Linked DNA regions of Homo sapiens: region 1 is linked to region 2. The links come from fine-mapping of genetic effects on gene expression. A gene starts in region 2. The other region holds a variant in brackets. All regions are shown on one strand. Distances are from middle to middle. Region 1 overlaps SPOCK1 (SPARC (osteonectin), cwcv and kazal like domains proteoglycan 1). Region 2 holds the start of SPOCK1 (SPARC (osteonectin), cwcv and kazal like domains proteoglycan 1).

What was found. PIP is the estimated chance that this variant, and not a neighbour inherited with it, causes the effect.
Region 1: its variant is the best candidate, but not a certain one, in a credible set for the expression of SPOCK1 in putamen (GTEx, PIP 0.70).

The regions. Positions count from the first base shown.
Region 1 is chr5:137,407,721-137,410,632 of GRCh38, forward strand. The region is part of intron 2 of SPOCK1 (SPARC (osteonectin), cwcv and kazal like domains proteoglycan 1); the gene reads right to left. Among named protein-coding and RNA genes, the nearest start is that of SPOCK1, 90 kb to the right of the region's middle. The variant AG/A (reference allele first, on the strand shown) is at 1,436.
Region 2 is chr5:137,497,597-137,500,508 of GRCh38, forward strand. It overlaps SPOCK1 (SPARC (osteonectin), cwcv and kazal like domains proteoglycan 1), which reads right to left and starts at 1,730. Exons shown (of 11, transcript NM_004598.4): 1 at 1,583-1,730; 2 at 777-962. The coding sequence starts at 962. RefSeq lists a silencer at 1,681-1,900.

The sequences.
Region 1 (2,912 bases), 90 kb before region 2:
CACAAAACAGAACCTCAAGTCTTTCTGCTCTGTAAGAAAACACAAGCCACTGCGCACCTATCAGCAGAGCCATAGAGACAGAGAACATCTGAAACCTATGTCAGGTCACATCATTTCCTAGATTAAAACCCATTGGTGCTTTCCCCTATGCCTAGATTGACATCCCAGTCCTGCTTCCAAGCCACAGGGCCCTGCAGGGTCTATGCTTGCTGGCTGCCTCTCCCGCCCCCACCCCCACTGCTCACTTGGCTCCAGGCACAAGGGCCTCCTTGCAGCCCCTGCAACAGACCAAGCTCTGCACTACCTGGGACTCTTTGTAGATGATATTTCATCTCCCTGGAAGATTTTTTTCACTGCATCTTGACTTATTTCCTTCACAACACTTATCATTAACTGAAAATAGATGATTTATTTGTTTTCTGGCTTAATGTCTGTCTGTTAGTTCTACTAGCCCACAAGGCCCATGAGAACAAAGACCTTGGCTGTGGTATTCAGTGCTGTGTTCCTGACACTCCCCATATATTATAGAAGACAGAAGAGGCTAGGTGTCCCTCAACCCCACCATGGATGGTGAGTGGTATGGTCTTACCATCAGATAGTCAGGAGTGGGGATGTGGAGGGGAGAGAGACAGACAGGGACATGTTTCCTCTCATATAGGCCCAACCATGATGCCCAGCAGACTGAGGCTGAAGAAGAAACACCACAGCCCTTTGCTGTGATCATTCCTGCCTTGCCAGTGCCACCTCTAGCATGCAATACCTCCTAAGTGCCCTTGAAACACATCAGTTCTTGCCCTCCTTCTCAGGGATAAAAAGCTTATCTTTGTCTCTAATCCAAACCCATTCTTGAGAAAAAGTAAGGGGAAAGGGGAACAGCTTAAGCTCCTAGCTGTGGCCAACGTGAAAGGAACATGTTTACCCTCTCTGGACCCCATTTACTTTATTTTTTTTAACTGCATAACTCTTAAGGCTACCTGCAGCTCATTTTCTAATGTTATGTCATGGTAAAGGACACCAGCCTCCACCAACAGCCAATTCCCCCTGGAAATCAGAATAAGATGTCAAGGAAAGAACATGAGACAGACCAGGAGCAGCCCAGCTCCACCACTTACTAGCTGCATGGCCTTGCCCATGCTTCTTAGCCTCTGGGAGCCTCAATTTCCTCAACCAAAAAAATGGGAGGATAACTCCACTTTCCTCACTGGGTGAGTGGGAAGACAGCCCTCAGCACTGTGCCTAGTGCTCAATTTATGTTTCACGAAGGTCAGTCCCATCTCCCTCCCAAACCCCTTCCCCAAACACACATTTTAGAGCACAGCCTATCAGACTCCTGGGAAAGAAATCCAAGTCTGAAGGAATCCAGGCCACCTCCAGTCCCCCATACAATCTCCAAAGTGTCATGACCACCCACCCCTGACTCCATCCAGGAAGCACA[AG/A]ATATGGTCCCCACCTCCCCATCCTCAAAGGGGGTTTTCCCTTTCTTTATGAAAAGCCTGGAAGGAGGCAATACTGTTAGAGGCATTGAAAGTGTCTGTACCAATCCTATTTGTTATACCCTTCATAGGAGACATAAGCTTCATAACCCTAGGCAGGCAGGCTGAACCAAAGCCATGGGTTTGGGGAATCGCAGATCCATAGGCAGCATGCAGGTGGAGAGGGAGGCTGCCATGGGATAAGGCTGAAGAGTGCTGGGCTAAAGGAAATCTGGAGGAGGAAGTCTGGCCTAGCATCTCAGAGCACAGGATCTAGAGTCAGACAGCCTGGGCTCATATCTCAAATCTGCCATGTGCTAGCTGTGTGTCACTTTCTGTAAAATGGCATAATGATAGTACCCATCTCCTAGGGTTGCCCATAAGGATTAAATAAAATTAGCCTTAGCAGCATTTTAACACATGATAAATTAGCAATACTTGGCACATGATGAATATTACATGGGTAAGAGGCACATGGCAGCTGCCATGGGAGACTAGCTATTGTGCCCACAATGATTGGGTTGAGAAAGTTAATTTTGTTTTTTGGTTTTGACTTTCCTATGTTTCTGTTAGGTTAGAAGGATATACATACCAGAACTCCATTCCTTCCATCATTTGACAGCTATTATATGCTAGGCTCACTAATAAGTGCTGAGCAAAATAGACATCTAGCCCTTAGGGAACCTATGGTTGAATGGAAATTCAGTTTAGCTTGGTTTAGCATTTACCAGCTACCTCCTATGCTTCAGGCCAGGGCTGAGTACTGTGGTGGTGGGAAGGAATGCCCAGGCACATCAGATATGGTCTAGCAATGGCCACCATGAGCCACCTCCCACTGCCACCACATAGCTGGCCTGGGTCCCAGCTGTCTCCTCAAGCTGTGAAAACTTCACATTCTCCCTTAGCTTCACCACTTCCCAAATCATCACACCACAGACCTTATTATCTTTGCAAGCCTTCCCATTTTATGCCTTTATTATCATGCTCCTGATATTCGGCATTCACAGGCACTTAATCAAGGTGCTCTGCTGGTTTATTACAACATCTTTCAGCTGATCTATTTTCCCTTATCTAGACACTCCACCACTGCCTGTTAGTGTTTAAAAGGATCTTCCTGAGGTATCATTTGACTTGTTCCTGATGATAATTAATTTTAAGAACTGATCAAGATGTTAAGGGGAACCAGCCCTTGGAAACTGATGACCATGTAGGTTTATCATGACAACAGAGCCTTTTTAAGATGTTATGAGCAGGCTGGCTGCAGGAAGCCAGGGAAAGGCTGTTTGTTGATAATCATCTCATTGGCTGCATGGATCACGGCTGTCAGGTTCTGTTATTGGTTTCATTATTCCAAACAAGTTCCGTTCTGTGCCCTTTGGATAATTGGCCCAGAAGATATCCCTGCATTTTAATAAAGTCAACAAGTATTAAATAGGGACT
Region 2 (2,912 bases):
TGGGGCACACCTGGGGAGTGGCAGCCAGCCTTGAGGCAGAAACAGGCCGCAAGTGTGTTTCTGCGTGTCCGGGAGTAACTTTCTCCACTCCCAGGGCTCCCACGGAGGAGCAATGCTCTGCCACCCAGGGTCCCTTTCAGGGCAGGGGACCAACTGCACGGGCTAGTTGTTCCTGTTTCAAGATTCCGAGGGTCAAACCACCCCACCTCCCCTGTATTTTATCAGGCCCATTGCCATGACCGCCTCCCTCAACACACACACACACACACATGCAACACCTGACTCCCATAAATAGCTCCCCCATAAATAGCTTGGACCACTCCCAGACCCAACCTCTCCAGTAGGGATTCTCCTGACACACCCCAGAGATGGTCCACGCCACCGCTGCCCCGGGGAGGTTTTCTCCGGAGCTAGGGAAAGTCTACCATCACGGTTAGGAGAAGTCGGAAGCTCAGAGAACCTCTTTCTCCACAGCTACTGGTGATCTGTGCTGTATTTTAGTGCAGTCACCTCCCGCAGCCCTACGAATACACACACCTGGGCCACAGGTAACAGGCAAGCGCATGGAGCCTTCGAAGTTCTCTTTAAAGTTCCTTTCAGGCAAGACCGCACCCAGGAAGCTGGGACCGACCAGCCCCCGCGGGAGATGCCCACCTGTCCCCCTCCCAACCACACACACACACACACACACACACACACACACACCCCAACCCCGCTTCAGGGGTCCCCTCCGAGAGGCTCCGCGCCCCCCAGGGCCGGGTGGCGCCGGTACTCACGTCTCGAAAGCGGTTCCAGTACTTGTCCCGGTCGTACTGGGAGACGGTGCTCAGCCACTGGTCATTGTCTAGGAAATTGCCGTGGTTGGGGCCCGCGCCTCCGGCGAGCGCGTCCAGGTGCCGGCTCTCGACTTGGAGGAAGCACCACGCCGCGGCGGCCGCCGCCAACACCGCGATCGCCGGCATCTGCGGGGCAGGGCGCGCAGGGCGATGAGCGAAGAGGGCGGGCGGCCGCGAGCCCCGGGCACCCAGGCGTCCCAGCGCCCCAGCCCGGAGGCGGGGACCCCGCGGCGGGCACGGGCAGCGCTCGCGCACCTGGGGCGCCTGTCGCGCCTCTAGACCCAGGGACCCCTCTCACGAATGGGGGACTCATCTACGAACGAGGAGGCTGCGTCACGAATCCGAGGCTGCCGTCCAACTACAGGGGACCCGTCTCGTCTATTCTCCGAGTGCCCCACAGATGCCGCCCTCCTATCAGGGGCTTGGTACCCCTCCCCAGAAGCGGGGAGCCCGGGTCCGCACGCCGCACTCCCACAGACGGTGCGGTGCACACGGCTTTGGGGCAGGAGAGGGGAGAACAGGGCTCCAGCAGCACCCGAGCTCCGGCAAGCGGGGTGGGGGCTGCCAGCAGCTGGGGGTCCCCGGCGACAGCTAAGGGAAAGGTCTCCCTTGAGCGCCCTGAGGTCTCGGGGGTAAGAAAGGCGCGCGGAGGTAACCCCAGGCCCTGACCCTGCCAGCCCCCTAGGCGGCCGCGGGGAGGTCCCAACTACTCCAAGTTGGGGCGCGGGGTTCCTCTGGGCACGTACCTTGGGGGCCGGCCCGGGTCCCCTAGTCCGAGTTGCTCGAGCTCCCGCGGCACGGTCGCCGGGAAGGCTGATCGCCGGCTCGCGCCCCTGCGCTCCTGCCACACGCCGCCGCCGAGCGTCTGGCCGCTTTGTGAGCCCGCAGCGATGTGCTCTGCTCGCTCGCTGGCTCGGGCGCGGCGTCCGCGGGCGGAGGAGGCCGAGCGCGCGAGCCAAGGCTCTGGCGCCCCCTGGTGGCCGCGCGCTGCCTGCCCGACAGCCCGGCCGCCCCAGCCCGGAACGTGGTCATTCACATCTTTTTTTTTTTTTTTTTTTTTTTTAATTTACTTCTATTTTTTTTTTTAATTATACTTTAAGTTTTAGGGTACATGTGCACATTGTGCAGGTTAGTTACATATGTATACATGTGCCATGCTGGTGCGCTGCACCCACTAACTCGTCATCTAGCATTAGGTATATCTCCCAATGCTATCCCTCCCCACTCCCCCCACCCCACCACAGTCCCCAGAGTGTGATATTCCCCTTCCTGTGTCCATGTGATCTCATTGTTCAATTCCCACCTATGAGTGAGAATATGCGGTGTTTGGTTTTTTGTTCTTGCGATAGTTTACTGAGAATGATGGTTTCCAATTTCATCCACGTCCCTACAAAGGACATGAACTCATCCTTTTTTATGGCTGCATAGTATTCCATGGTGTATATGTGCCACATTTTCTTAATCCAGTCTATCATTGATGGACATTTGGGTTGGTTCCAAGTCTTTGCTATTGTGAATAATGCCGCAATACACATACGTGTGCATGTGGCTTTATAGCAGCATGATTTATAGTCCTTTGGGTATATACCCAGTAATGGGATGGCTGGGTCAAATGGTATTTCTAGTTCTAGATCCCTGAGGAATCGCCACACTGACTTCCACAATGGTTGAACTAGTTTACAGTCCCACCAACAGTGTAAAAGTGTTCCTATTTCTCCACATCCTCTCCAGCACCTGTTGTTTCCTGACTTTTTAATGATTGCCATTCTAACTGGTGTGAGATGATATCTCATAGTGGTTTTGATTTGCATTGCTCTGATGGCCAGTGATGATGAGCATTTTTTCATGTATTTTTTGGCTGCATAAATGTCTTCTTTTGAGAAGTGTCTGTTCATGTCCTTCGCCCACTTTTTGATGGGGTTGTTTGTTTTTTTCTTGTAAATTTGTTTGAGTTCATTGTAGATTCTGGATATTAGCCCTTTGTCAGATGAGTAGGTTGCGAAAATTTTCTCCCATGTTGTAGGTTGCCTGTTCACTCTGATGGTAGTTTCTTTTGCTGTGCAGAAGCTCTTTAGT